Linked DNA regions of Homo sapiens. The protein of the gene in region 1 purifies or fractionates together with the protein of each later gene. This does not show direct contact. Each region holds a gene or a part of one and is shown in the gene's direction. Other genes may lie near its edges.

Region 1 (7,023 bases):
GACCTTCAGGGCTGCAGGTGCAGCAGTGCCAGCGCCCACTAAAGATTCCTGCCTGCACCCGTCATGGCAAAGCCACGTGAATTACAGTTTGGACACCAGCACTGAGAGTTTCCCAGATTAGAAAACTCAGTGGAATTCTAGGACTCAGAATTCTTAGAACACTCTTATGGGGCTTAAGCAAAACAAAAACTTTGCTGTATAGTCAGCCCTCTGTGTCCACGTGCTCTGCATCCTCAGATTCAACCAACTGTGGATGAAAATATTCAGAAAAAAGACCCAAGAATAACAATACAATAAAAATACAAATAAAATATGACATCAATTTCCATTGTGTAGGTATCATAAGTAATCTAGAGGTGCTTTAAAGTATATAGGAAGATGTGCTAGGTTATATGCACATACCATCCCGTTTTGTATCAGAGACTTGAGCATCCGAGGATTCTGGTCTGGGGGGCAGGGGAGGATCATGGAACCACTGCCCCAAAGATACCGAGGGGTGACTGTAATCTTTAGGCCATGAAAAACTAACTCCATCTATTCCCAGAATACACTCTTCATATTTTCAGCTTCTCTGGGATCCTCAGCATGAGGAAAATCGGTGGTTTTGTCTTCACCCTTCATTCCCATCAGGTGAAATCGGGGAACTACGTCCTGTTCTGTGCCTCAGCCAGCCAGCCCCCTTCTTACCACTGTTATCTTATACTTCTGTTTCTTATTTATTTTATTCTTCAGGACATTGTTACCATAGGAATGCTGTCCTTGCCTTGTGGCTGGCTATGTACAGCCATAGGATTGCCTACAATGTTTGGTTATATTATTTGTGGTGTACTTCTGGGACCTTCAGGACTAAATAGTATTAAGGTAAGAACAAAATTGGATTGTTTTGGTATCTGTTTAACAGAATATAAAAAGAGAATTCATGAAGACTAAAAAGTATTGAATGTGATTAATGCAGATACCAGCTTCGTATAAACCATTTCAAAGATGTCCTTTCAGGTGTCACGGGAAGTCTCTGAACCCTCAGGAAGTCGCTGTGCCTGTTAGTGAAGGGGCGGTGTTACTGGAGACAACGCCCCTGCTCGTTTCCATTAGTTTTAAGGACTCCATTTCCAGTAACGTGCTGGACCAGGTTATTCAGACCACCTTTCACGTGCTGAATGTAACCAAAGTGTTGCATTAACCGTTTTTGTTGTTGTTGTTGTTGTTGTTTTTGAGACAGAGTCTCGCACTGTCACCCGGGCTGGAGTGCAATGGTGCAATCTTGGCTCACTGCAACCTCCGCCTCCCGGGTTCACATGATTCTCCTGCTTCAGCCTCTTGAGTAGCTGGGATTACAGGTGCACACCACCACACCTGGCTAATTTTTTGTATTTTTAGTAGAGACGGGGTTTCACTATGTTAGTCAGACTGGTCTTGAACTCCTGACCTCATAATCCGCCCGCCTCGGCCTCCAAAAGTGCTGAGATTACAGGCATGAGCCACCCTGCCTGGCCCATTAACTGTTTTTAAGCATCCCATTCACAACACATGGAAAAGCTGATTAGCCCCAGTCGAGGCAGTGGGCAGTGGGGCTGTTTGCTGGGCCCCGTCACACTGATGGCACTTCTGACAGGGAGGAAAGGTTCCCAAGCTTCCAGCTGTCTCCCCACAACACTCACGGTGCGAGCAGCGTGGAGAACGGGTGCCAGAGTGGGTGCCATGAGTCCCACTGGAGGGAGGCGTGCCAGGGGGTGGGACGGGGAGGAGTGCAGCCTGCTCCCTCCAAGCCTCTTTCCCTCTGCTGCTGGTTGAGCCTGGGACTAGGCCCAGGAGCCCCAGGGCTTTCTCCAGATCGCAGGGCGGCAGGAGGGGTCTGAGGAGCTCGAGCCCCAGCTGGTGAAGAGGAGCGCGCCCAGCACCCTGGGCCTGGGGAGCGGCTGGCCGGCAGAGGAGCCGCAAGCCCACGTGTGGGGGCTCCCAGGACAGGGCTCGCCTTGGCAGAATGGCCTCTGGGAAGAACGGCTGTTTCAATGTAGTTTTTGGAGTAGGTCTTTTTCACGTGATTCAAGTATAAAACACCAGAGGTGAAAAATCACTTCCTGCCCTTTGCAAATAAAAGCAAATACAAATTTCCTTCCTTCTTTTTCTTAATAGCAAAGGTGCTCATAAACCAACAAATAAGGTGAAGTGGCTGGGTAACACATACAACTGGATGCTGTAAAAATTATAATTCTTAATAAATCAGCTAAACCATGGAAAATAATGTAATTATAAATAGACCAAGATAAAAATCAAAGCACATACTAGCCAAAAGTGAGAAGTGGTTAATCGAAGTACACTGTGTGATTGTGTGTGTGTGTGTGTGTGTGTGTGTGTGTGTGTGTGTATGTGTGTTTTGGATACTTCCACCGGGCATACTAGGGCATGATTGTTGAGTTAAGTATACTTAATATGTTAAACATGTACAATTATATGGTTTTTCTTTTGTGTTTTTCAGTCTATTGTGCAAGTGGAGACATTAGGAGAATTTGGGGTGTTTTTTACTCTTTTTCTTGTTGGCTTAGAATTTTCTCCAGAAAAGCTAAGAAAGGTAAGGACCTCATCAACCTGTTACTGCAGCTAAGGAGCTTCACATCATGTGGTTTTGGTTCATACACTTTTAACACTTGTTGATGAATTCACTATCAAATGTTTTTAGAATAGAATATGATATTTCGGTTTGATGTTATTTTTGGGACAAATTCAGAAAGATAAAAAATATCAGGTTTGAAAGCGTAGAAATTCAGTGAAGAATTGGAATTTGCCTTCACATGGCTAACTTCAGGAAGGGTCTGGAAAGTAATGTGTGTGAACTTTAATAGATGGCTCCCTCTAAGGTGCGAAACTGTTAGAGGGTCAGATGTCATAGAGCTTGCATATTCAGTGTGTTACCCTAGAAAAAACTTTGTCAATTGGAAGTGAGTTAATTAAAAGACACTTTGTTTTTCCAGACACCGCACAAAAGAGGAAAGTAGCTGATTAAAAGCCAGGGTGGGGAGAGGTAAAATGAACACTGTTCATAACAAAAACACCCTGTGAATTAAGATCAGATACCACTTTGCCTGCAGTGCTAGCTGGAAAACTAGCATCGACTTAGCAAAAGTTTTTAAGTGACTGTCAGATGTAACAGGCATTCTTGAACCAGATTCGTGAGAATCACAACTGTACACCCTTTCTGTATTTTTGGGGTTTTTTTTCCACGAAAGACTTGGTCATTTTAAACAAAGTGACTTAATTTACAGTGTCTGGTTTGCCTAATCATTCAGCTCTCTCATGTAGTATTCCTTCTTTTTTTAATTTAAAATTTTTTTATTTCAATAGGTTGTTGGGAACAGGTGGTGTTTGGTTACATGCGTAGGTTCTTTAGTGGTGATCTGTGAGATTTTGGTGCACCTGTCACCAGAGCAGTGTACACTGCTCCCGATGTGTAGTCTTTTATCCCTCGCCACCCACCACCCTTTGCCCCAAGTCCGCAGAGTCCAGTGTGTCATTCTTACACATTTGTGTCCTCATAGCTTAGCTCCCGCTTAGGAGTGAGATCATACGACGTTTGATTTTCCATTCCTGAGTTACTGCACTTAGAATAATGGTCTCCAGTTCCATCCAGGTTGCTACAAATACCCCTTTTTTGTTCCTTTTTATGGCTGAGTAGTATTCCATGGTATATAAATACCACATTTTCTATTGATGGGCATTTGGGCTGGTTCCATATTTTTGCAACTGCAAATCGTGCTGCTCTAGACATGTGCATGCAAGTCTCTTTTTCGTATAATGACTTATTTTCCCCTGGCAGTGGGGTTGCTGGATCAAATGGTAGAGCTACTTTTAGTTCTCTGAGCAACCTCCACACTGTTTTCCTTAGTGGTTGTGCTAGTTTACGCTCCCACCAGCAGTGCAGAAGTGTTCCCTGTTCCCCACATCCCTGCCAACATCTATTCTTTTCATTTTTTGGTTACGGCCATTCTTGGAGGAGTAAGGTATTGCATTGTGGTTTTGATTTGCATTTTCCTGATCATTAGTGATGTTCAGCATTTTTTTATGTCTGTTGGCCATTTGTATATCTTCTTTAGAGAATTGTCTATTTATATCCTTAGCCCACTTTTGGATGGGGTTGTTTGTTTTTTTCTTGCTGACTTTTTTGAGTTCTTTGTAGATTCTGGATATTAGTCCTTTGTCGGATGTATAGATTGTGGAGATTTTCTCCAGCTCTTTGGATTTGTACACTCTTTTTGGAGAGCTGTCTAGCAATTTGACCTAAAAGCCTTAAAATGTACATATGCCTTGACCTGGTAGTTCTTCTAGGTCTCTCTCCAAAGGAAAGAATCAAACATAAGTTTTTAAAAAATTTACCCACAAAAGGTTTCACCTCCTCATTGTAAATTTTTAAGAAACAGTGGAACCAGTCCTGAGCATCTAACGGTCAGTTCAGCTGCGGCGTGACTACCATGGAGTGTTAGGTAGCCACTGCAAAGTAACAAGAGCATCAGCAACAGAGCAAAATATCGGTTGGAAAGCTAAATGTGGGGAAAAAAGGAGCATGTAACATGACCGCGGCAATGTAAAAGAAGCACCAATACATGGGGGAAAAATGGGAAAGAAGCGTTCCGGGTAGCCATGATGACTTCTGGTTTCTTCTCCATATTTTCCAAATTTTCTATAATAAGCAGTCAATACTTTGTCATTAGGAGGAAGAATAAACTTTTCTTTTAAAGGCTTGTGTTTACTTTCAGAAGTCAACTCTGATCTCACTGGCATGTTTTTCTTTATACTCTCTTCCCATTTGCTTCCTCAGTTCATCCTCTTACCTAGAACTTTTTGTTTTCTTTATCTTTCTGTTTTTCCACTAAAAGCTCCGTTTTTCCATCTTCCCATTACTCTCCCTTTCCTGTGTACACTCCTGAAGACAGGCATCCTCATAAGGTGTTCTGAATTAACTTTAGGGTGTTCTCCAGGTACTTTGCATCTTTTTATATTTCTTGTAAATTGTTAATTTCTAAGCTCCATGATTAAAGAGAATTCACCACTCTCCTGGGTCCTAATGAAAAGCTGTGTCATCCTTGCCGTTAATCCTGTGGAGGAGACTGTTGTGGGTGGGGAGGGTAAGGGAGCGTGGGCCGCGTGGCTGCCTGGCCTGTGGAGGAAGGAGCCTGTTACGGGTGGGGAGGGTAAGGGGGCGTGGGCCACGTGGCTGCCTGGCCTGTGGAGGAAGGAGCCTGTTATGGGTGGGGAGGGTAAGGGGGAGTGGGCCGCGTGCTGCCTGGCCTGTGGAGGAAGAGGCTGTTATGGGTGGGGAGGGTAAGGGGGTGTCAGCCAGTGGCTGCCTGGCCTGTGGAGGAAGAAGCTGTTATGGGTGGGGAGGGTAAGGGGGAGTGGGCCGCGTGGCTGCCTGGCCTGTGGAGGAGCCTGTTATAGGGGGTTTGGGGATGTGGCTGTCCAGTGCCCTGTCTCACCAGTGTCCCACGAGACTCCGTAAAAACACAAGGCCTCCATTCCATGGTGCAGCATGGGCGTGTGTGTGTGAGTGTGTGTGTGTGTGTGTGTGTAATTTAGAGAGGTTTGCAGCAAAGGGCAATTTAGGGCCAACCCGTAGGGGAGGTGGGAGGGATGAAGTTCTGGCTGTGCAGCAGAGCGTCAACAAGGCACTGATCTGCCTGGACCTGTGTTCCTCTCCTGTACAGTGAGGAATCTAGAAGGCTCCAGTGTCTTCTGGCTCTGCATTTTCATAGTTTGTATTTTTCTCCACTATAGTATTCACAGTTAAATAAAAAATAATGTTGTATAACGTAAGGTGGAGGTAATTGTGAGCAGCGTGAGCATGTGCTTCATCAGGCCTGCTGTCGTCTAATGGTGCTTCCGAGGGTTTGCACCCGGTTCTGAAGTGCCTGCTTGGTGGTGTAGACTCGGGGGCTTGGCAAGAGGCTGGCGTTCTCTGTTAGTAAGTTGTGCTCAGCTGCCCTGCGTGGTGACAGAGTCAGATGCGTGGAAGGACACTGGATTGGGACTCAGGAGACGTCTGTGAAACTCCTTGCTGACATCTGATTGAGTGGGGCTGGGCAGGGTTCCTTCTGTGTCTGGGATGTGCGGGTGTCTTGGCGCTGACGAGGGTCTCCCGGTCCCAACTCCTCTCACCCGTTGCCGAGCCTGTGCTGCTGTCCCCGGAGGGAGCCGTCGGAGTCTGGCCCCACCCTGGTTCATGGAGACGGCATCCCGCTGTTTTTCTAAGTCTGTGGACTCGGATTGCAGATCTGTATCCACCCAGAAAACGACATTATTAAGCAATGTGTTTATTTTCCCCTTTTTATTACTCAGGTATAAATATCTGGCCAAGCTTTAGAATAACCTGAGATACCCGGAGTGACTTTTCTGAACTGATGAGCCTCCTGCCACGTGGGTTAGCTTGCACACCACACTTATGGGTGGGAAAATAATTTCCTTGGGTTTTTGAAATGTTAATACTTGCCAGAAGGCCCCTCTTAGGACTTCTAAAGATATGATTAGAAACTACTTGGAACACTGAAGCCCCGAAACTGCGCCGTGCATAGTGCTGAGGAAAGCTGCCCACTCTGTTCTCGCCCTTGTAGCTGCTCGCTCCTCTAGCCTGACTTCAACTGTTCCTTAAACTTGATCTCTTAAGAGTCTGTCAGTTTCTGCCTCTCTCCAGATTGTTTCTCAAGTCATTGTGGTTGGGAGTTTCGTTTGCTTCTGTCTTGTATCTTCTCTGTTCTAACTACAAATACCTGTTGAGCACCTGTGGTGTTCCAGGCCCTTCAGGGGCTGCTGGGTGAGGCAGGTATAACGTACGTGTGTGCCTACCCTGCGGCTTGTATTTTGGGATTTCAGGAGAATGTGTCTTGGCGCCGGGGGTGCCAAGGGGCCCTCCCGTCAGCGCCTCCTGACCTTCAGCCCACAGGCAGCCATCTGGGGGGCTTGGTAACCCACAGATTCTGACCTGGGCGCACCTGCAGATGGGGTTTCTGATGCATGCACGGGTCCCGTGTTGAACAG
Region 2 (7,113 bases), on another chromosome or scaffold:
ATACAACTGTGAATAAGACATGGTCCTTGTCTTGAGGAGTTGAATCCCTTGTGTTAGGGAAGCAGGAGCCTAGGAGAGCCAGAGTGGCACCACTTTAAAAATCAACTCCATCTTGAGACTAACAAGGCACATTCCTTTTCGGTCACAACCCATAATCATAACACGTTTATAGTTGAGGAAACAGCCTAAAGATACCTACTACAAGGACACACTCCTACAAAAGCAGAAAGCCCACATGTCCCAATACCCATAACAATCTATGTTTTCAAGATAATTACAGTTAAGCTTTGATGTATTCACACACTAGAATGTCAAGGATAGTTATCTTTAAATCAATAGAATAATTTGTAATGCTGTCTGCTCACCGACATGTAGACACAGCTTAGCTTTTTACATAGATAAGACCTCTGTATAAGGAAAACTTACAGACAAGACGTGCCTCCTCTTACTCTCTGGGGATGCCCTACTTTGTAATGGAGTAGCTTTTAATAAACTCTCTTCTCACTGCGCTCTGCTACTAGCCTTGAATTCCTTTTTGCATGAGATCTCAGAACCCTCTCTTGAGCTCTTTTTCGACAACTTGGAAAAGGCATTGTGAGTAGATAATTATAGTACAAATTGGTGAGTGACTGCTACAACAGAGGTGGAATTATGAAAACTTGAGGAAAAAAAAGATGATTAATCTGAGGTCTCAAAGCATGGGTAGTTGAGGAAAGCTGGGCGGGACTTTTTCTTGCATTGAGAATGGCACTTAAAACACAAATCTAGCCTGGTGTGCCAAACTAGGCTAACAGTGAAAACTCAAAAGCTTAAGCAAAAAAGAGATCAGATGTGCTTGTTTGTTTCAAGATAACTAGGTCTTTGTGTGGGGAGAAAAATCAAGTCACACATTCCTAAATTCCTCACATACATTTTCTGGGCTTGGATTCAGACTCTGCTAGTCACTAGCTGTGATCACTTCCCTGTGCATGAGTTTTCTTGTCTGTAAAATGGGGCTAAAAAAATAGTATCTTAGCTGGGTGTGGTGGCTCACGCCTGTAATCCTGGCACTTGGGGAGGCCGAGGCGGGCGGATTGCCTCAGCTCAGGAGTTGGAGACCAGCCTGGCCAACACAGTGAAACCCCATCTCTACTAAAATACAAAAATTAGCCGGGCGTAGCAGCCTGCGCCTGTAGTCCCAGCTACTCGGGAGGCTGAGGCAGGAGAATCGCTTGATCCCCGGGAGGCGGAGGTTGCAGTGAGCCGAGATCAGGCCACGGCATTCCAGCCTGGGTGAAAGAGCGAGACTCCATCTCCAAAAAAAAAAAAAAAAAAAAAAAGTAGTATCTCCCTAAAAGTGTTGTCAGGAAGCCAAAACGAGCTAATATATGAAAAGTATTTAGAATGCTACCCGTACTATATGTGTGAGCTCTTGTACGAAAGTATTTCTCATGTACCTACTTGATAGCATTATGGCTTTCTGCCAGTAAGCAGCTGATTTTGTCTCACATTTCATTGCTTTCCCTTCAGGTCTCAATGACAGATTTGTTTTTGAATAAATGAACCATGGCAAGATTCAAAAATACTTAAGCAATGCTTATATAACATTTAATTCAGTTCAGAAGATATAGGCATTCAGAGTGTGCTCTGCGGTAGGTATTACAAGTGCTCTTTTTGCCCCAAATTCAGAAGTGGATCTTGAACTGCCTAAAGGATTCAGACCTGACATTGTAAGAATGACTTTGTGAAGATAAAAACATATGAAGAAAGTCGCTTTCCAGAGATTAAAAAATTATCTACTTAATAAGAAAAATTCCTTTTATGATAATCTTGAGTACAGAGTTAGCAGGTAACAGCCATCCTGGTGATAACTGTATTCCCATCTGTAAGAGTCAGTTGGCCGGGCTTGGTGGTTCATGCCTGTAATCCTAGCACTTTGGAAGGCTCAGGCGGGAGGATCACTTGAGGTCAGGAGTTTGAGACCAGCCTCGCCAACATGGTGAAACACTGTCTCTACTAAAAATACAAAAATTAGCCGGCATGGTGGCACGTGCCTCTAGTCCCAGCTACCCGGGAGGCTGAGGCTTGAGAATCGCTTGAAGCTAGGAGGCAGAGGTTGCAGTGAGCTGAGATTGCGCCACTGCACTCCAGCCTGGGCCACAGAGCGAGACTCTGTCACAAAAATTTAAAAATAATAAAAGAGTCAGCTGCTCCTCTATTATTTTAACAAAACAGAACTCACAGATACCAATAAGCAGTTTATTGAAGAATTCTCTTCAGGAAATGATTTCCCATACATTGAACTGATTCTCTTTTCTGCAGTCCTTTTAAATTTGATGTCAGTTCAGACAGCCAAACTTACTGGTAACAGTGAGGAATATTGTAGAAGAAAGAATAAAAGTATTGGAAAGCAAGGCAGTTATTGATAATTATGCATACTGGGGAACCACAAGATTTGGAGACCAGGACTTTGACTTTTGGTTTCATCATTACGATTTAATCACAGCTGTGATTTAGTCAAGCCATTTAACCTCTTTAATTTTCATTTTCCTCATTTTAAAAATCAAAGTTGTTTTGAGGGTCAAGTGAACGCCTGTGCGGGTGTTTTACCAAATAATTATTTTATTAGCAGATAAAACATAATATTGGGGGTGAAAAGTTATAAGAGGTGCCATGTTTTTTTAAACCCTGCCAAGTATCTGATACAGAATTGCAAAGGATGTTCGAGTTCATGAAGAAGTTGCCTTCTCCCCACAGAGGCAGAGTGACTTGTAACATCTGTAAAAGGTCACAGTCTGGTTAGCGGTAGCCAGAATCTGGGTCTCCTAACTCTAGTTGCCTAGTCTTGCTTTTATGCGCCAGTGTCGTTCATCATTCATTAAATACATGTTATGGAGGATAAATTAAGGGCAGAGCATTGTGCTAGGTGCTGTGGGTGATCTTATCAGACACAGATCTTTAGGGAATCTAGAGATTAAAAAGTATGAATAAAGTTATGTGACTTGGTGAAGGTCAATGGCGATTTGGTGGAAGAGGTGACAATGCAGCCACGCTCCAAAAGGCAGAAGGGATTTGCACCTATTATCATAGGGGTTAAAGAAGGAAGTCCAGAGTTAAGAAACAGGATGAGCAAAGACACTGAGGTCTTAAGCCTCAATAAATTTTAGGTAAGTTTCATCGTAGTAGAATAAGGGCTGTCTCACTCCGAGACTTTTGCACACTTTTGCTCCCTCGGACTGCTTGTCCTGGACACCGTGTAACCTCCCCCTGGGCGCCTCACCAGACTTCTCCAGGCCAAGGGAAGGACCACCTCTTGGGTTTCCATGGCTCCCTCTCTAACCACCCCCTTCTCAGGACACCTATGACACGACTATTTGACTTCTTTGCCTCCGAGCCCCCACCCCCAACGTTTCTGGTCTTGAGAGAACGGGCTGGGCGCATCCGTGTATCTCTAGCCTGAGCACCTGGAGCGTCCTCTCCTTTTCTTCTTAAGGCAAAAGCCTACTCATTCTTCCAGCTTCAGCTGGAATGTCAGGCTCTCCACGCACTCATGGCCCTCCCTTCCGCCCTCTCCACATACACAGGGCAGGGAAGCTGTGTCTGATTCCTCTTTCGGACTCCGGGGACTGACATATCATAAGCGCTCAATAAATGCTAGCGGAATGAATGGAAACGTTCCGACCCGAGGCAGCGGATCACTCCAGGCTTCTCCTCAAAGCGAGCACACCTCAGTCCAGGGAGGGCGCAGGAGCTGGGGCTGCTGCGGTGAACCAACCCCAACCCCGACCCCGACGCCGATCCCGGCCCCAGAGCGCCTCCTAGGCGACCCCTGGCCCCACCCACGCCGGAGCCGGCCCGCGCCCATCCCCACGCCCCAACCCGCACCACGCAACATCGCCCTAGCGCCTTTCGGGGCGTCGCCGCGCAGGTTGCGCCGCCTCCGATTGGCCAAACGCGGCATAGCGCCATCTCGGCCTACCGCGCGGTGCGCGCCCTCATTGGCCGGCGGCGGCAGGAGCAGGGGTAGGGGGCGGGGCAGCACGCGGGGCGCGCGGTATGGGCGGACTCGCGCCTGAGCCCCGCCCCCGGTCCCTCGTCTGGGCCGAGCCCGCCCAGCTGGCTGAGACGCGTGGAGCCTGGCGGCGAGTGGGGGCGTGCGACGGTTACTCTGGTTACTGGGGCCGCGCCGCGCTGGCGAGAGCCGCCGCCCGCGAGGGATGCTGGTGAGGAAGCCGTCGGGAGCCGCCGCCGCCATCTGAGGGAGGTACCCTGGAAACCACCTTTTATCGGTGGGGAAGTGCAGTCGCGGTGGGCGGCTCTGGGGGCCAGCGAAACGGGAGGCCTCTAAATCTTTAGGTTGGGGCTGCATTGCCCTGGAGCCGCACTCTTGAGTCCGAGGCCATCTTTTGTTGGAGAAGGCGTCGGCGTTGGCGTTTTCCCGAGGTTGGGCTGTACAGTGTCTCCGTCCGCGGAAAAAGAAGCCTCTGAACCCGCGCCGGCCCGCAGCCCCCGTGCCTTCCGGCCGCTGCTCGCCGTCGCCAGAGGCTAGGCCACGTTTCCCCCAGTGCCGAGGTGTTTCTGTGACCCTCCCTCCACTCCCATTCCCTTCTGAAAGGGCACCTGCTCTTGGTGAGAAAAGAAATTATAGCACGAAGAGCCAGTATCAGAAGAGTATCCATCACCCGCAGCAACCGCTCAGGGAACACCATCAAAAAAGAAAAAAAGGGAATATCTGGATTTCCTGGGCGAGGAGGAGCGAGTCTGCTCGGGAGCTGTTCCAGCAGGCGATTTTTAAATACTGCTTTCTACGCCCTATACAACTTGGCTTCACATACTTTTACACTAACTTTATATGATTTTTAAAAACTGGTCTGATCGGACTTCTCGTCCTGGGACACTGTTTACTGGAGTCTGGCCGGCTCTCCGTGCTCCTCTTGGTACCTCATTTTGGGGAGAACCTTAAACCCACTCGAGCAGATAATCTCCGCCTTGACCGGTGCCACCAAAGAAGCCTTGGAACCATGTGGACTTTTCTGGGCATTGCCACTTTCACCTATTTTTATAAGAAGTTCGGGGACTTCATCACTTTGGCCAACAGGGAGGTCCTGTTGTGCGTGCTGGTGTTCCTCTCGCTGGGCCTGGTGCTCTCCTACCGCTGTCGCCACCGAAACGGGGGTCTCCTCGGGCGCCAGCAGAGCGGCTCCCAGTTCGCCCTCTTCTCGGATATTCTCTCAGGCCTGCCTTTCATTGGCTTCTTCTGGGCCAAATCCCCCCCTGAATCAGAAAATAAGGAGCAGCTCGAGGCCAGGAGGGTAGGTTGATTTCAAAGCGGGCAGATGAATGTCTTATTTAGGAGTAGGATTGGGTTCACTCAAATATAAGTTTTATTTGAATTGCAAAAGGCGGCAGGTTAGATGCTTGTATACATTCTCATGTATTTTTTATTTTAAACTCTGCTGTGCCTTGGTTACATCTTTGACCTTCTTAAGAATGAGTGAAGACATTTGTTTCATTTAGCATTGGTTGAGCCTCAGATGGAGGTTGGATATTTGATTATGAAAGATGGAACGAAATGTTAGAATTTCATTTTGAAGGAGAAGAACAACCACTTTCCATGATGAAAAAGTTTTTAAAAAGTTCTTGGGTAAGGATTGGATTTGTGCCTGAGGAAGAAAGAAACGTGCTGCGGGTAAGTCCACTGCTTGTAAGAAGTGACAGCTGACTGGGGAAAGTGACAGAACAGTTTGAAAAGCAGGCAGAAGGAGAATGCTCAACATTTTGAGGCATTGGGCTCAAAGTTCTCCTCCCCCGAATATTGGAGCATTGAGTAAATGCTTGTAGTAATGTCCTAACATAAAGGCCAGGTCTTCAAATAAGGGTGTAGTTGGGATTCCTGCAAAGGGAGCAGAGGCGGCCACTGGGAGAAGATGAGGGGGAAGAGTTTAGGCCAGATCATTTAGGGCATGTTGGCAATGAGTGTTCGGGCTTTTTCCCAAGAGTTCTCCCAAGAACACTGGAGGATTTTAAGTATGGGAGTAACTTTATTCGGTGTTTACTTTTTAAAAAATTTTTGTTTTTTGAGACAAAGTCTCGCTCTGTCGCCCGGGCTGGAATGCAGTGGCGTGATCTCGGCTCACTGCAACCTCCGCCTCCCTGGTTCAAGCGATTCTCGTGCCTCACTCAGCTTCCCAAGGAGCTGGGATTACAGGTGCACGCCACCACTCCTGGCTAATTTTTTTTTTTTGTATTTTTGTGGAGACAGGGTTTCACCATGTTGGCCAGGCTGGTCTCGAACTCCTGACCTTAAGTGATCCGCCTGCCTCAGCCTCCCAAAGTGCTGAGATTACAGACGTGAGCCACGGCGCCTGGCCTGACTTTTACCTTTTAAAAAGAACATTGCAGTTGCTGTATGGAGAATGGGTTGTAGGCGTACAAGAATGGAAGCAGGGCTATCAGGCAAGAGACTATAGCAGTAAACGCCCACTTGCTTTTTAAATTTTTGCGCCACCATTTCTGGATGTGAGATCTTTGGCAAATTGCTTAATTTCTGTGAGAATCTGTTACCTCTTCCATTAGACGGGAATGGCACCACCCTTGCTGGTAGTTAATACCTAGTCTATAACCGCCTGATAATAGTAGCTGTTAATATTAGCCTAGGGGTAATATACATCTCTTAGGGTGAGCTTTATGAGTAGCGCTGAGTTCAGTGACATGGTGCATGGGTTTGAGGAATGGGAAAGGAGGGAGAGAGAATCCTTAATGTTTAATTTGAACTTTTTTGTATTGTGGTCTGAAATAATTTCCCTTAAGGTCACTGAGCTCTAGTTCAGGTGGCTGGAATGCTGTTCCTGTTTTCATGCTGTGTAGAGAAATTTTGGAGTAGGAAAATTGGGTTACCAGCAATCAATATTGGTTCCATTTTGTGAACGCCCCAGGCTTTCTCTTTATTTTTTTGTGAACCAGGGAGTTGTTAGATTGTGATCTATTGACTACTAAGTTCCCATTAGTGCTTACTCTACTGATCAGGCTCTGCAAGGCCTGTTTTCCTCCAGAGCTCTCCTTTCAGGGTGTGTGTGTGTGTGTGTGTGTGTGTGTGTGTGTGTGTGTATATAAAACAGGAAAAACTTATGAAGA
Region 3 (7,023 bases), on another chromosome or scaffold:
GATGGGGCTTTCTGTGTCTGAGGAAGGCGAGCGGCCCAGCCAGCCGGCCAGTAGTGCCCCCACCGCTAGGGAGTCCTCCTGCCCTGTGGGGCCCCGCCAGGGAAGGCATCAGTGGAGAAGGAGCCCCAGCTGGCTGCATGGCTCCGCAGGGGCCTGTGAGAAAGGGGGAGGAGAGGCCCAGGGCCTGGGAACCGCGGTAGCTCAGGTGGCTTCCTACTCAACAGCCACCTTGGAAGGCTGGTGTCCCTCAGCCTGAGAGTGCAGGATGCAGTTTCTCCACACCTCCGGGACCTGTAAGCCTCTCTCTCCCCGTTTCTAGGCACCCATGTCGTTGGAGAAATATATCCTGGAGAGAAAATGCTCCCTGAGGGAGCCCTGCCCTGGGGTGGCTGTGGGGATGTCAGGGAGGGCCAGGCACTGCCGGGTGCCACCGTGGGCGGGGGTCAGAGTGGAGGCCGAAGCCCTGTGTGCCCTGAGCAACGAGGCAGGTCCTTCCTGCCCCCAGGGAGGGGCTTGTGGGAGGCAGGGACCTTCTGGGGGGCTGCCCGCCGTGCGCACGAGGTAGTTTCCACAGCCCAGCAGCACATCATTTTACATTTTCATCTTTATTCTTGCTTAATACGTGAATCATGGTTTGTCAAGGTTTCAATTGGCGTGACCTTGCTAATGAGATTGTACAGTTCTCCTCGTGCTACACCTTTAAGCACACCTCTCTAATCAGGTTTCTTAAAACTAAGAAGCCTGGAGTTCGGTTCGGCCCCACAGCCGCGTCAGGTGGTGCCGAGGAGGCCGTGCCCTGGGCCGGCCTGGAAATGGGAGGGCAGGCCTGGTGGCTGCATGTGCGTCCTGCCTCGTGCGGGTGGGGCTGAGCTGGGCCTGGGGTGGACTTGGGGCCAGCACTCTGGCTGCCCCTTGGAGAAGCATGGCCCACGCGAGGCGGCAGCCAAGGAGCCCTACGGCGTCCACCACCGAACTTGAAGCTGAGGTGCCCCGACCTGGGGCCCTGTGGCTGCACCTGTCAGGCCGTCTGTGCAACATCCCGCAGCCCACGGTGGGGGGGCAGCAGCAGCTCTGAGCCGAGCCTCTCCTCTTCTCTTCCAGCCTCCCGGCATGGTGCTCAAGGCCTTCTTCCCCACGTGCTGCGTCTCGACGGACAGCGGGCTGCTGGTGGGACGGTGGGTGCCGGAGCAGAGCAGCGCCGTGGTCCTGGCGGTCCTGCACTTTCCCTTCATCCCCATCCAGGTCAAGCAGCTCCTGGCCCAGGTGCGGCAGGCCAGCCAGGTGGGCGTGGCCGTGCTGGGCACCTGGTGCCACTGCCGGCAGGAGCCCGAGGAGAGCCTGGGCCGCTTCCTGGAGAGCCTGGGTGCTGTCTTCCCCCATGAGCCCTGGCTGCGGCTGTGCCGGGAGAGAGGCGGCACGTTCTGGAGCTGCGAGGCCACCCACCGGCAAGCGCCCACTGCCCCCGGTGCCCCTGGTGAGGACCAGGTCATGCTCATCTTCTATGACCAGCGCCAGGTGTTGCTGTCACAGCTACACCTGCCCACCGTCCTGCCCGACCGCCAGGCTGGAGCCACCACTGCCAGCACGGGGGGCCTGGCTGCCGTCTTCGACACGGTAGCACGCAGTGAGGTGCTCTTCCGCAGTGACCGCTTTGATGAGGGCCCCGTGCGGCTGAGCCACTGGCAGTCGGAGGGCGTGGAGGCCAGCATCCTCGCGGAGCTGGCCAGGCGAGCCTCGGGACCCATTTGCCTGCTGTTGGCCAGCCTGCTGTCGCTGGTCTCAGCTGTCAGTGCCTGCCGGTAGGTGTCCCGGGACAGGCAGGTGGCAAAGAGTGGGGTCCCATGAGTGCTGGCCCATCCCTTTGTCTGCAGTGGGCACAGAGGCCCAGATGCGCTCTTCCTGGGCCCGGGCCCCCTCCCACTCCTGCAGCCCGGGCTTTGGCCCCATCCTGCTCTCCCAACCCTCGCCTCTCAGAGGGTGTCCCTCACCCCTGGGGTAGAGCCAGGTCTCTGGGCAGCCTCAGGGATTGCCAGGGGCCCTCCCAGAAGGTGTAGAGGGTGAACCTCAGTGGCTTAGGTCCCTGAAAGAGAAATCAGAAGGTGAGCACAGACATGACTACTGCTGCCTGGGGGTGCTCCTGAGGGCACACAGGCCCGCTGGCCTCCCTGTAGCCCTGCCTGTGCCCCCAGCAGGCCTCTGGACACTGCAGCGCTCATGGGCTGTGGGGGTGTCATCCACTTGCTGGCCCCGTGTGCCTGGGGGAGTGGTCTACAGGCCCTGCTTCTCTCCACAATCACAGGTGCTGCTGGCCAAGGGTCAGTTGAAGCCCAAGGGCCCTGAGGGGCACGGGGGTAGCCCCGAGCTGTGGCTGAGAACAGAGGGCCCCCTTCCACAGGGGACCTCATCTGCCTGGCGGAGGTGCCCCATGGGGAGCAGCTAGGGGTCACCTGCAGTTGCCCCCTGCCTTAGACCCGGGGGTGCATACTCTGGAAGCCTGGGGTGAGAAGCTAGGCCAGCCCAGGAGACCCCGGGCAGCTTTCTGGGCCCTGTCGGCGGGGCGAGGCCCTGGGCCCGTGGGAGTTGCTGCTGGCTGGCAGGCGCTTCTTGGCACCGGCTCTGGGAGCATGTGGTGACCAGGTGGCCCGGGGTCAGCACCTGCGAGGAGGCCAGGCTCCGTGTTAGTCACGTGCACTGTGAGGTGGGCGCGTTGAGCGCTGCCTACCACCACCTGGGCCACCGAGGGCCCCTCCCACCTGCCCCCTGTCCTGCTGAGCTCAGGAGTGTGGCCTGGGTGTTTGTGGTCCCCTGCACAGTGGGGGACGGTGGGAGGAGGATCTGGAGAGGGACACATCACTCCTCTCCACTCCCACGCAGAGTGTTCAAGCTCTGGCCCCTGTCCTTCCTCGGGAGCAAACTCTCCACGTGCGAACAGCTCCGGCACCGGCTGGAGCACCTCACGCTAATCTTCAGTACACGGAAGGCGGAGAACCCTGCCCAGCTGATGAGGTGTGGGCCTGCCCTGGTCTCTGCAGGGCTGGGTGCGTGCCCTCTGGCCCCTTCTCCATCCCCCTCTGCACCACGCTGACCCCTCCGGCCAGGCAGGCCTCCTCCTGCGGCCCCAGGCTGTGCTGGCCACCCTCATGCCGGCCGGGCCGGACCTCCCTTCCAGGAAGGCCAACACGGTGGCCTCTGTGCTGCTGGACGTGGCCCTGGGCCTCATGCTGCTGTCCTGGCTCCACGGGAGAAGCCGCATCGGGCATCTGGCCGACGCCCTCGTTCCTGTGGCTGACGTGAGTGGACTGGGGTGGAGCCCGGTGTCCCGGGTGGGCGTGGGGACCCCTCCTGGGCAGCAGAGCCTTCCCGGGCCAGAGCCACCGCCCCACAAAGCCAGTTCTACCTTCTCCATGCTCTGGAGACACGGCCCTCCCCTGAACCAGAAGCAGGAACTCCAGGGGCGCTGGGGCCTGGGCAGGGCAGGCCTCGCAGGTACACCCCCCTTTCCTTCTGAAGGGGCTGTGTGCAGGAGCCAGCCGGGCTGAGGCTCTGGGGAGCCCGCCTCTCCCTGTGGGCCCAGCGTCCTGGTATCTCCCTTGTGGTCCCTGAGATCAGCGTTGCCCTCCTGGCTCTCTGGGGCCCTCTGCAGAGCCAGGGTCATGAAACCTTTCCTGTCCAGGGAGGCCCATGTGCAGCCCAGCTGGGACTTCCTGCCCTGCCCCTGTGCTGATTCTGTAACTCCTGTGCTGAGAGCCAGAGGCACAGCTTGTCTCCCATCTCCCACCTTCCCTGCATGGTCTGTGCCCCGTTTCCAGCCGGGTGCAGCCCCCTCCTCTGCAGATCTAGTGCATTTCCATGCTGCCTCTGGGCCTTCAGCTTCTCTGTCTTCCTCCCTCAGCACCAAAGCCCCGTCTCTTCCATTAGGAGCTTGTCTTCCTGCTGGGGGTGGTACCTGACTCTTTGGCCCACCCTCGGGCCTCTGTGGAGGCCTCCTTGAGGCCTGACTGGGTGGGTCTTGTGTGGGCTGCAGGTGTGCACTGGGCCTGCTTGTGGCCAGGCCAGGCCTCTGGGGGCAGCATCAGGCACGTCTGTGTGGCTGTGGGGGTGCAGGGAGCTCCAGCCCAGAAGGAAGGAGGGGCGGGGCTGGGGAAGGGGCTCGGCAGCTTTGCCTGTGGTCGTCCGCACCTGCCACCGGCCTACTTTGTCCTAGACCTCCCTTTTGCAAAAGTGCTCAGAAATATAAATATTTAATTTAAAAATGAAAGTCTCTTCCTGCTGCCAAGCTCTTATCCTTTAAATATTAAATAAGCTCTATTTATAAAGAATGTTCTTTTCTCAGCCGGGGGTGGTGGCTCATGCCTGTAATCCCAGCACTTTGGGAGGCCAAGGCGGGCGGATCATGAGGTCAGGAGATCGAGACCATCCTGGCTAACACAGTGAAATCCCGTCTCTACTAAAAATACAAAAAATTAGCCAGGTATGGTGGTGGGCACCTGTAGTCCCAGCTAATTGGGAGGCTGAGGCAAGAGAATGGCGTGAACCCGGGAGGCAGAGCTTGCAGTGAGCCGAGATCTCACCACTGCACTCCAGCCTGGGCGACAAAACAAGACTCCGTCTCAGAAAAAAAAAAAAAAAAAAGTGTTCTTTTCTCCTTCTTGCCAGTCCTGCTGTGGCTGAGGCCTTGGCCCAGGCTTGGAAGGGGCCTGCGCAATGGGCAAGTGGGGGCCAAGGTGTCACTCACTGTCTCCTTAGTGGGGAGGCTGAGGCTCCCTTGGGGTCTGCCCGCTGGGGCACAGCCTCTGGATGCTGAGTTTCTTCCTGGGCGGCCAAGACCCTGCTTCCCTGTTTGCTCTTGGGGGTGCCTGTGCCCTCAACTTGACGCCATCCTCCCTCTGGGGACCTGTCCTCCTGCCTGGTCGCTGTGGCCCTGATGGGCTTGGCACTGTCTCGCTCACCTGTGGTCATCCCGGGCAGCCCCCAGCCTCTGCGATGGGGTGGGGCCTCTGGAGGGGACTGTGTCAGCTGTGGGCTTCCCTGCAGGGCTGGAGCCGAATCAGGGTCTGCCAGGCCTCAGTGCGTCCACGTGTTTGGGGCCGAGGGCTCCAGTGGGTCCTGTGGCCGAGGTAGTGAGAGGGGAGGAAGATGGTAGAGGTGGGTGCAGGCAGGGGGCCACGCGGATGCCCTGTGGGCCCGGCCATGTCACCCAGGCCTGCAGAGAGAGGCCTCCAGACCAGCCTCCTCAGACCCCAATCCCGGAGCCATCTGTGAAGGGGAGCCCGTGTGCTGTCCACGCTAGGACGCGGTAGACCCTGGAGGAGGGAAGGCTGGCCAAGGTGGGAGCCCATCACGAAAGAGCCTGGGGAGATGCAGGTGCTGAGCCTGGCTGCCCCCGCCCCAGCGTGGCCCCTGTGTCCCTGCAGCACGTGGCCGAGGAGCTCCAGCATCTGCTGCAGTGGCTGATGGGTGCTCCCGCCGGGCTCAAGATGAACCGTGCACTGGACCAGGTGCTGGGCCGCTTCTTCCTCTACCACATCCACCTGTGGATCAGTGAGTGCAGGGCAGGCGGGGGCCCCAGGGACCCCAGAGCTTGCTGAAGAGGGTAGGGACCCAGCCAGACCCCGCCCCCTGTGCCCCCAACTCTGCTCCCCAGCGTCCTGTGTGTGTGAGGCCTGCTGTGCTCAGCTGAGGGCTGGGGCCTGGGCACCTCCCGAGGGCTGACCCCACCCTGCCAGGCTACACGCACCTCATGTCCTGTGTGTGTGAGGGTTGTGCTGGGCCGAGGGCTGGGGTCTGAGCGCCTCCTGAGGGCCTACCCCACCCTGCCAGGCTACATCCACCTCATGTCCCCCTTCGTGGAGCACATCCTTTGGCACGTGGGCCTCTCGGCCTGCCTGGGCCTGACGGTGGCCCTGTCCCTCCTCTCGGACATTATCGCCCTCCTCACCTTCCACATCTACTGCTTTTACGTCTATGGAGCCAGGTGGGCGTGGGCTTCCCCCTCCCCACCGCCCCCTGGGAGGTGCAGAGGCTCCGGCTGGGCGGGCGTTCGAGTGGGGCGGGGGCGGGGCGGGGCGGGGCGGGGCCGGGCCCGACAGCACTGCGTCCTGTAGGCTGTACTGCCTGAAGATCCATGGCCTGTCCTCACTGTGGCGTCTGTTCCGGGGGAAGAAGTGGAACGTTCTGCGCCAGCGCGTGGACTCCTGTTCCTATGACCTGGACCAGGTATGGGGCAGGGTTCGTGGCTGGAGGGGCTGACTGCCTCCGGCCTGTGCCCGCTGGGCCAGCGCGGTGCTTGGGCACCACAAGGGGGCAGCCTGCTCCCGTCCTGCAGCTGAGGCCGCGCACAGGCCCTGGGAATAGATAAGTCTGCGGTGTGGGCTGCACGTGGGGCTCTGAAGCAGCGCAGAGCTTCCCTGGGCCACAGAGAAGAGACAGACACACAGCCCCGAAGGTGGTGCAGGCACAGGCCCTAGAGGTGCCCCGGGCCCAGAGACTAGAGATGCCCCGGGCCCGGAGACTAGAGGTGCCCCGGGCCCGGAGACTAGAGGTGCCCCGGGCCCGGAGACTAGAGGTGCCCCGGGCCCGGAGACTAGAGGTGCCCCGGGCCCGGAGACTTGAGGTGCCCCGGGCCCGGAGACTAGAGGTGCCCCGGGCCCGGAGACTAGAGGTGCCCCGGGCCCGGAGACTAGAGGTGCCCCGGGCCCGGAGACTAGAGGTGCCCCGGGCCCGGAGACTTGAGGTGCCCCGGGCCCGGAGACTAGAGGTGCCCCGGGCCCGGAGACTTGAGGTGCCCCGGGCCCGGAGACTAGAGGTGCCCCGGGCCCGGAGACTAGAGGTGCCCCGGGCCCGGAGACTTGAGGTGCCCCGGGCCCGGAGACTAGAGGTGCCCGGGCTCGGAGACTAGAGTTGCCCGGGCCCGTCTGCTGCTCACACTTGCCGCAGCCGCTGGATGCTGCCATGCAGAGCATGTTCTTGGTGACTGTGTGGCCACGCACCGTCTTGGGTGGTCTGGCCCCCACCTGTCTCCCT
Region 4 (7,023 bases), on another chromosome or scaffold:
TTTTAGTAGAGATGGGGTTTCACCATGTTGGCCAGGCTTGTCTTGAACTCCTGACCTCGTGATCCGCCTGCCTTGGCCTCCCAAAGTGCTGGGATTACAAGCGTGAGCCACTGCGCCCAGCCGTATTTTATTTTATAGATTACAAAACATTCTGAGAAGGGGGTCCACAGGCTTCACTAAACTGCCAAAGAGATCTGTGGCACAAGAAGTTTGAGACCCCTACTGATAACACAGAAGAGTTCCGGGCCTGGAGGTTAACCTACCGGCATAATCCCAGTCAGAATCCAACGCATGGGAGGCGTGTTCACCTGCACTCAGCAGGTGTGTCTGTTCTGACTGTCCCACCTCCCCCGTTCACGAGCACCTTCAAATCCTCACCATCTCTAGGAGCACCAGCCAGGTTGTGCTGTGTGTCTGAGACGTGTCACCTTTTTTTTTTTTTTTTTGAGACGGAGTCTCACACTGTTGCCCAGGCTGGAGTGTAGTGCGTGATCTCAGCTCACTGCAACCTTCGCCTCTTGGGTTCAAGCAATTCTCTGCCTCAGCCTCCCAAATAGCTGGGATTGCAGGTGCCCGCCACCATGCCCGGCTAATTGTTTTGTGTTTTTAGTAGAGACGGGGTTTCACCATCTTGGCCAGGTTGGTATTGAACTCCTGACCTCGTGATCCACCCGCCTCGGTCTCTCAAAGTGCTAGGATTACAGGTGTGAGCCACTGCACCTGGCGTCACCTTCTGTCCTGAAAGTAAATTTGTTTTAACCATTCACTTCTCCATACAGAAGTTATAAAGGTTCATGTATTCAAACATGACATTATTCTCCTTCATGCCTTTCCTTACAGGAAGATAATAGAAATATTCTCCTCTGCTTTCCTCCGGTATTCTTATGGTTTTACTTGTGTACAGTAGGAGATAGACTTCTGTGTTGATTTTTCCACTTACATAGCAAATTTTCTCATTACCATTTATTGGGCAATCCCCAGTATTTTGAAATATTCTCATTTCCATCTGTACAGGCAATTATCTGCACTCTTTGTTCTTTTGCTGGATTATTTTCTTTTTTTTGAGATGGAGTCTCACTCTCGCCCAGGCTGGAGTGTGGTGGCACAATATCGGCTCACTGCAACCTCCGCCTCTCGGGTTCAAGTGATTTTCATGTCTCAGCCTCCAGAGTAGCTGGGACAACAGGCGCCCACCACCACGCCTGGCTAATTTTTGTATTTTTAGTAGCAATGGGGTTCCTCTGTGTTGGCCAGGCTGGTCTTGAACTCCTGGCCTCAAGTGATATGCCCACCTTGGCATTACAGGCATGAGCCACTGTACCCAGCTTCTCCCCCTTACTTTAAACAAGAAAATATTTAAGCATTTCTTTAAAAATTTTTTTTAGTTTGTATATATTTAGAGGGTACGAGTGCAGATTTCTTATGTGACTGTGCTGTGGTGAAGTCTGAGCTTTTACTTCCCATCACCCAAGTAGTCAGTGGTGATTTTCAACCCTCTTCTCCCCGCCACCTTTTCAAGTCTCTGGTGTCTGTTATTTCCCTCTGTTGGTCCATGTATACCCACTGTTTAGCCACCACTTATGAGTGAGAACATCGGCTGAGGCAGGAAGGTCACTTGAACCCAGGATGTCGAGACCAGCCTGGGCAACAGAGTGAGACCCCTTCTCTACAAAAAAATTAAAAATCAAAGGGTTGTGGTGGCACATGGCTGTAGTCCCAGCTACTCAGGAGGCTGAGACGGAGGCTTGATGTCAGGAGGTTGAGGCCAAGTGAGCCGACATCACGCCACTGCACTCCAGCCAGCATGGGCAACAGAGTGAGATGGCGAGACCCTGTCTTGGAAAAAAAAAGTGAGAACATGCAGTGTTTGACTTTCCATTGGTGAGTTGTTTCACTTGGGATAATGGCCCCCGGTTCAATCGACGTCACTGCAAAAGACATGCTTTTTTTTTTTTTTTTTTTTTTGACACAGAGTCTCGCTCTTTCATCCAGGCTGGAGTGTAGTGGCGCAATCTCATCTCACTGCAACCTCCGCCCCCCAGGTTCAACGATTTTCCTGCCTCAGCCTCCCAAAGTGCTGAGATTACAGGCGTGAGCCACCGTGCGCGGCCGAGTTCATTCTTTTTTTTATAGCAGAGTAGTGTTCCGTGGTGTATTTATGGCACTTTTTCTTTATCCAGTCCTCTGTTGGGGGACGTTTAGGTTGATTCCACGTGTTTGCTGTTGTGGATAGCGCTGTGATAAACACACGAGGGCAGGGATTGTTTGATATGATTCCTTTTCCTTTGGGTAGAGGCCCAGTAGTGGGATTGCTGGATCGAATGGTGGTTCTATTTTCAGGTCTTTGAGAAATTTCCATACTGTTTTCCAGAAGGGCTGTACTAATTTGCATTCCCACCAGCAGTGTGTAAGTGTTCACTTTTCTCCACATTCTTGCCAGCATCTATTGTTTTTTGACCTTTTTTTTTTTTTTTTTGAGGCAGAGTTTCACTGTGTCAGCCAGGCTGGAGTGCAGTGGCACGATCTCGGCTCACCGCAACCTCCGCCTCCCGGGTTCAAGTGATTCTCCTGCCTCAGCCTCCTGAGTAGCTGGGATTACAGGCACACGCCACCATGCCCAACTAATTTTTGTATTTTTTTTTTTTGGTAGAGACAGGGTTTTCCCATGTTGGTCAGGCTGGTCTCAAACTGCTGACCTCGTGATCCGCCCACCTCAGCCTCCCAAAGTGCTTAAATTACGGTCATGAGCCACCGCGCCTGGCCACTTGACTTTTTAATAATAGCCATTCTGACTCGCGTGAGGTGGTATCTCCTTGTGGTTTTAATTTGCATTTCTCTGATGATTAGTGATGTTGAACATTTTTTCATATGTTTCTTGGCCACTTGTTTTTCTTCTTTTGAAAAATGTTTGTATCCGTTGCCCACTTTTTTAATGAGGTTATTCATTTCTTTCTTGTTGAGTTGTGTAAGTTCCTCACAGATTCTGGATAACAGTCCTTTGTAGGATGCATAATATGCATATATTTTTTCCCAGGCTGTAGACTGTCTGTTGATTGTTTCTTTTGCTGTGCAGAAGCTTTTTTGTTTAATGAAGTCCTGTTTGTCTGTTTTTGGTTTTGCTGTATTTGCTTTTGAGCACTTAGTCACAAATTCTTTGTCTTGGCGGACGTCCAGAGGAATTGCTCCTAGGATCTTTATGGTGTCAGGTCTTGGGTTCAGGTCTTGAATCCACCAGCTGACATTTAGAATGAACTTACTGGAGTCCTTTTTTTTTTTTTTTCATAACTCCTAACAAGTTTTGATTGGAAAGACATCGACTTTGGAGGTTATTTGGGAGGAATTGACAGCGTAGCTCTGAGTAGCAGTTCTGGTGCCCAGGGCCAGCCTTGGGAGTCACCTCCTCCAGTTGTCCGCAAGGAGTTTTGGGCCAGGACAGACATCACTGCCAGCATGAGCAGGCTGCTGTCTGGCATCTCACTGATCATTTTCCATCTTGCTGGTTGGCTCCTTAGAGCCGCAGTGCTGAGTACACATGTGTGCTGTCTGCGTACACACAGAACAAAATCCAATAGCAGTTTAAAAACCATCACGATAGGGTCTGGGTGCCCGGAATTCAGTTCTGATGGGCAGTGAGACTGTTCACCACCCGCCTTCCCTCCTTTGCAGGGGAAAGACGCCTCAGCCTTCGCCGCCAAGATGAGGGGGGGCTTCTGGCCGGCGCTGAGGATGAACTGGCGGGTGTGGACGCCACTACAGTTCATCAACATCAACTACGTCCCTCTGAAGGTGAGGGCCACGGGGCTCAGCCTCTGCTAACATTACTTTGTCAGCCTTTTCCTTCCTTCCTTCCTTCCTCTTTCCTCCCCCCCTCCCTCCCCTCTTCTTTTCTCTTCTCTTCTTTCTTTGGTAGTTTTCCGCTAGACTTAGTTTCATCCGTGTCTAGACTCCTCAACTACCCTTGGATTTTGCCCATGACCCTGAATCATTGCTAGTTCGGGATTCAGGAAGCAACAGAGAAGGGTGTCCCGAGTGGTCGTCTTTGCCTCTTCTGTTCGTTCAGCAAATTCTCATTAAAAGCCCCCATGCCAGGGATGCCTATGAGTTTTCTAGCCTTTGAAACATTCCCAGTCCCAGGAATGTACATGCAGGCAACTTGAATCTATGCTCCTGGGTTGCAGTCCTCAAACTTGGCCCAAATAAACTCTAGTTATACTTAGAAAAAGAAGGCCGTCACAGTAGCTCACACCTGTAATCCCATCACTATGGAAGGCTGAGGTGGGCAAATCACTTGAAGCCAGGAGTTCGAGACCAGCCTGGCCAACATAGCGAAACCCCATCTCTACTAAAAATACAAAAATTAGCCAGGCATGGTGGCAGGTGCCTGTAGTCCCAGCTACTCAGGTGGCTGAGGCACAAGAATCACTTGAATCCGGGAGACGGAGGTTGGAGTGAGCTGAGATTGTGCCACTGCACTCTAGCCTGGGCAACAGAGTAAGACCCTGTCTCAAAAAATAAATAAAATGTTAAAAAGAAACAAAGCATTCGTGGTCCCTGGGCTCATGAATTACAGCTGAGCCTGAAGGCAGGCACTGTGCGGCCATGGGTCCTGCCGCTGGCCTGGAAGAGCTGCCTCACCTGCAGCCATGGCAGCCACACCTGGGCAAGGGGTGGGCCCATCCAGGTGCAGAGTGAAGGCCTTCTGGGTAAGCTGAGCCTTTCCGCTATCCTGTGCATGAAGGAGCTGCTGTGGGGGCTGAGTCAAAGGTGTCAGATTGGGGCTGGGCTGGTGGTGTGGAGGCTGGAGCTCCAGGCTCTGCCACTGGGATCAACTGTCTTTATGCACAGCCAGGGTCCCCAGGACCACTCCCACACTGGGAGGATGGGGTGCAGCACCCCCTGCAGCATGGCAGGATACCCCCAGATGCTACAGGAGGAGGCCTGGCAGAGCCTGCAGGGGCCACGTGCTTCCCTCCCCCAGAAGGTATGCCGCCCATCAGGGTTTTTTACTGGTACTCTGGGCGGGCATCTCTGCCTGCTGCCCCAAAGCTCCAGACCCCTAGAAAGACAGCAGCTGTGTGGAGCCTGCATTGTTGGTGCAAACAGTCCAGGCACAGGGCAGGTGGCCCTTCTGGGAAAGGTGGGTGCCGTCCCAGCCCAGGCTGCTGCTAGGGAGGACCTGAACAGGCCTGCAGTGGCTGGACCTCAGCTGCAGAGGGCCTTCCTGCATTAGCACCGGCTCTGAGCCCTGCCCAGGAGGGAGGAAAGGACCAGGGTGACCCCCGAGGGAGAGGAGGGAGGCGGCCCAGTGTGTGCACACTGCACACACCACAAACACACCAAGAAGCAGCAGGAAACCAGGGGTGCACACAGACAGGACAAAGAGGCAGTTCACCCTTAGCCAAAGTTGCCAGGAGTTAAAGCAAAATAAAAAAATTTCCTTTGGCTTTAACAGTGGCCCTTCCCAGAGCAATTTCAGCTCTATGGGGCTGAAGCCAGATTGCCTTGAAGAGTGGGTGGGAATTATTTTAAAAATCACAAGTCTAGAACATGCTCTCAAAGTCTGTGGGGGCCAGGCATGGTGGCTCATGCCTGTAATCCCAGAACTTTGAGAGGCTGAGGCAGAAGGATCACTCAAAGCCAGGAGTTTGAGACCAGTCTGGGCAACATAGTGAGACCCCATCTCTATTTTATAAAAATGAATTTTAAAAAGTTTGAGAGAAGGTGAGAAGTGATGGAAGAAGGCTGGGTGGCAGAGGGGGTTCTGACACTCAGAGATGCGGCCATGGTGGGTGCAGACGTGAAGCTGCTTGTGGGATGGGCAAACACGCATGTCCAGAAAGAGCAGCTCTGCGGGGTCCCCTAAGGAGTCAGGGTGGATGTGAGCCCCCAGCACACTCACAGTGGTGCTTGGACAGAGGCCCTGCCCTCTGTGATGAGAGAGGAGAGAGAAAGTGACAGCTGAGCGGACAGGAGAGTGGGACATCCTGCCTCAAGCCCCCACGTGCCTCTCTGGAGGGCCAGGGGCTGGGACTGAGGGCAGAGGAAGTCAGGCGGGCATTTTAAGGGGATACAGGAGGGGCAAGTTTGGCCATGTGGAGGATGGGAGAGCATGCTGACTGCAGAGACAAAGACCTCTGGGCAGAGGGGGCTGGGGCTTGTCCAGCTGTGGTCAGCATCTGGGGAAGTGAGAAGGCAGGAAGGATAAAGGATTTTCCAGGGAGTGTGACTGAAGAACAGTAGGCTAAGGAAGCTACAGCCATGGGCCACTGGTTCTCGGGAATTTAGAGAAGGAAGCAGAGACAACTGAGAAGACAGACTGGCCGGGAACACGGAGGATCTGGGATGGAAGAGGGGAGAGCTGGGAAGCCGCGCCTCTGAGTAGCGTGGGGGCAGAGTCGCCATCCTAGGTGGGTGCAGGTGTATGCGGAAGCAGCATTCATTCAGCAAGCGTTTCCTGAGCAGTGACTGTGCGCCATGCTGCTAGACTCGGAGACGCGGCGATTAACCAGACACATGGGCTGCTACTTTCATAGCACCACGTGCCAGGGAGAGACTCAGCACTGGGCCAGAGGATTCTGGGGAAGGGTGAAGCTGCTGAGTCACCAAAGCAGGGCAGTGGGATGGTGATGGGTTAGAGGAGGGAAGGTCTGGGGCCCCTCCGCTGTTCGTCAGCTGTGTCCCCTGAGGAGGGTGCAGCCACCTGCATGATGGCTGGTCCTGGAGTGAGAGAGGCTGAACCAGGAGCTAAGGTGTGCGGTGAAGGGGGCAAAAGGAGAGTGACTTGGCTTTGGGATTCCTGGGCCGCTGTAGCCTGTGAACACTGTAACTAGGGGACCGTTTTTCTTCTCCACTCCTCTCTGCTAGGGGCCTAGCACAGCGTTTGGTACGAACAAAGGCTCAGTAAATGCAGTAATGGATGGGTGGTTGGACCAGCTGACCAACAAACGGGTAAACAAATGAACTGGGTGACTGAGGCTGGATAACTGGCCACGGCCTCCCGCTGACCGTGGCCTGTTGGACTGT

The links.
Region 2: the proteins of SLC9D1 (region 1) and SQLE purify together in Homo sapiens (affinity purification with mass spectrometry; 2 studies listed by BioGRID and IntAct, with this or other methods). This does not show direct contact.
Region 3: the proteins of SLC9D1 (region 1) and PIGQ purify together in Homo sapiens (affinity purification with mass spectrometry; 2 studies listed by BioGRID and IntAct, with this or other methods). This does not show direct contact.
Region 4: the proteins of SLC9D1 (region 1) and PXMP2 purify together in Homo sapiens (affinity purification with mass spectrometry; 2 studies listed by BioGRID and IntAct, with this or other methods). This does not show direct contact.

Annotation. Positions count from the first base shown.
Region 1 is NC_000013.11:113,501,020-113,508,042, forward strand, and holds part of SLC9D1 (transmembrane and coiled-coil domain-containing protein 3 isoform 1 precursor), read left to right. Parts: intron 1-732; coding exon 733-861; intron 862-2,476; coding exon 2,477-2,569; intron 2,570-7,023. UniProt on the Homo sapiens protein: Probable Na(+)/H(+) antiporter.
Region 2 is NC_000008.11:124,994,404-125,001,516, forward strand, and holds the start of SQLE (squalene monooxygenase), read left to right. Parts: upstream 1-4,101; 5' UTR 4,102-5,000; coding exon 5,001-5,291; exon of another isoform or gene 5,292-5,551; coding exon of another isoform or gene 5,552-5,668; intron 5,669-7,113. UniProt on the Homo sapiens protein: Catalyzes the stereospecific oxidation of squalene to (S)-2,3-epoxysqualene, and is considered to be a rate-limiting enzyme in steroid biosynthesis.
Region 3 is NC_000016.10:572,965-579,987, forward strand, and holds part of PIGQ (phosphatidylinositol N-acetylglucosaminyltransferase subunit Q), read left to right. Parts: intron 1-1,101; 5' UTR 1,102-1,110; coding exon 1,111-1,799; intron 1,800-2,874; coding exon 2,875-3,006; intron 3,007-3,169; coding exon 3,170-3,290; intron 3,291-5,414; coding exon 5,415-5,541; intron 5,542-5,820; coding exon 5,821-5,974; intron 5,975-6,104; coding exon 6,105-6,216; intron 6,217-7,023. UniProt on the Homo sapiens protein: Part of the glycosylphosphatidylinositol-N-acetylglucosaminyltransferase (GPI-GnT) complex that catalyzes the transfer of N-acetylglucosamine from UDP-N-acetylglucosamine to phosphatidylinositol and participates in the first step of GPI biosynthesis.
Region 4 is NC_000012.12:132,697,584-132,704,606, forward strand, and holds part of PXMP2 (peroxisomal membrane protein 2), read left to right. Parts: intron 1-3,666; coding exon 3,667-3,786; intron 3,787-7,023. UniProt on the Homo sapiens protein: Seems to be involved in pore-forming activity and may contribute to the unspecific permeability of the peroxisomal membrane.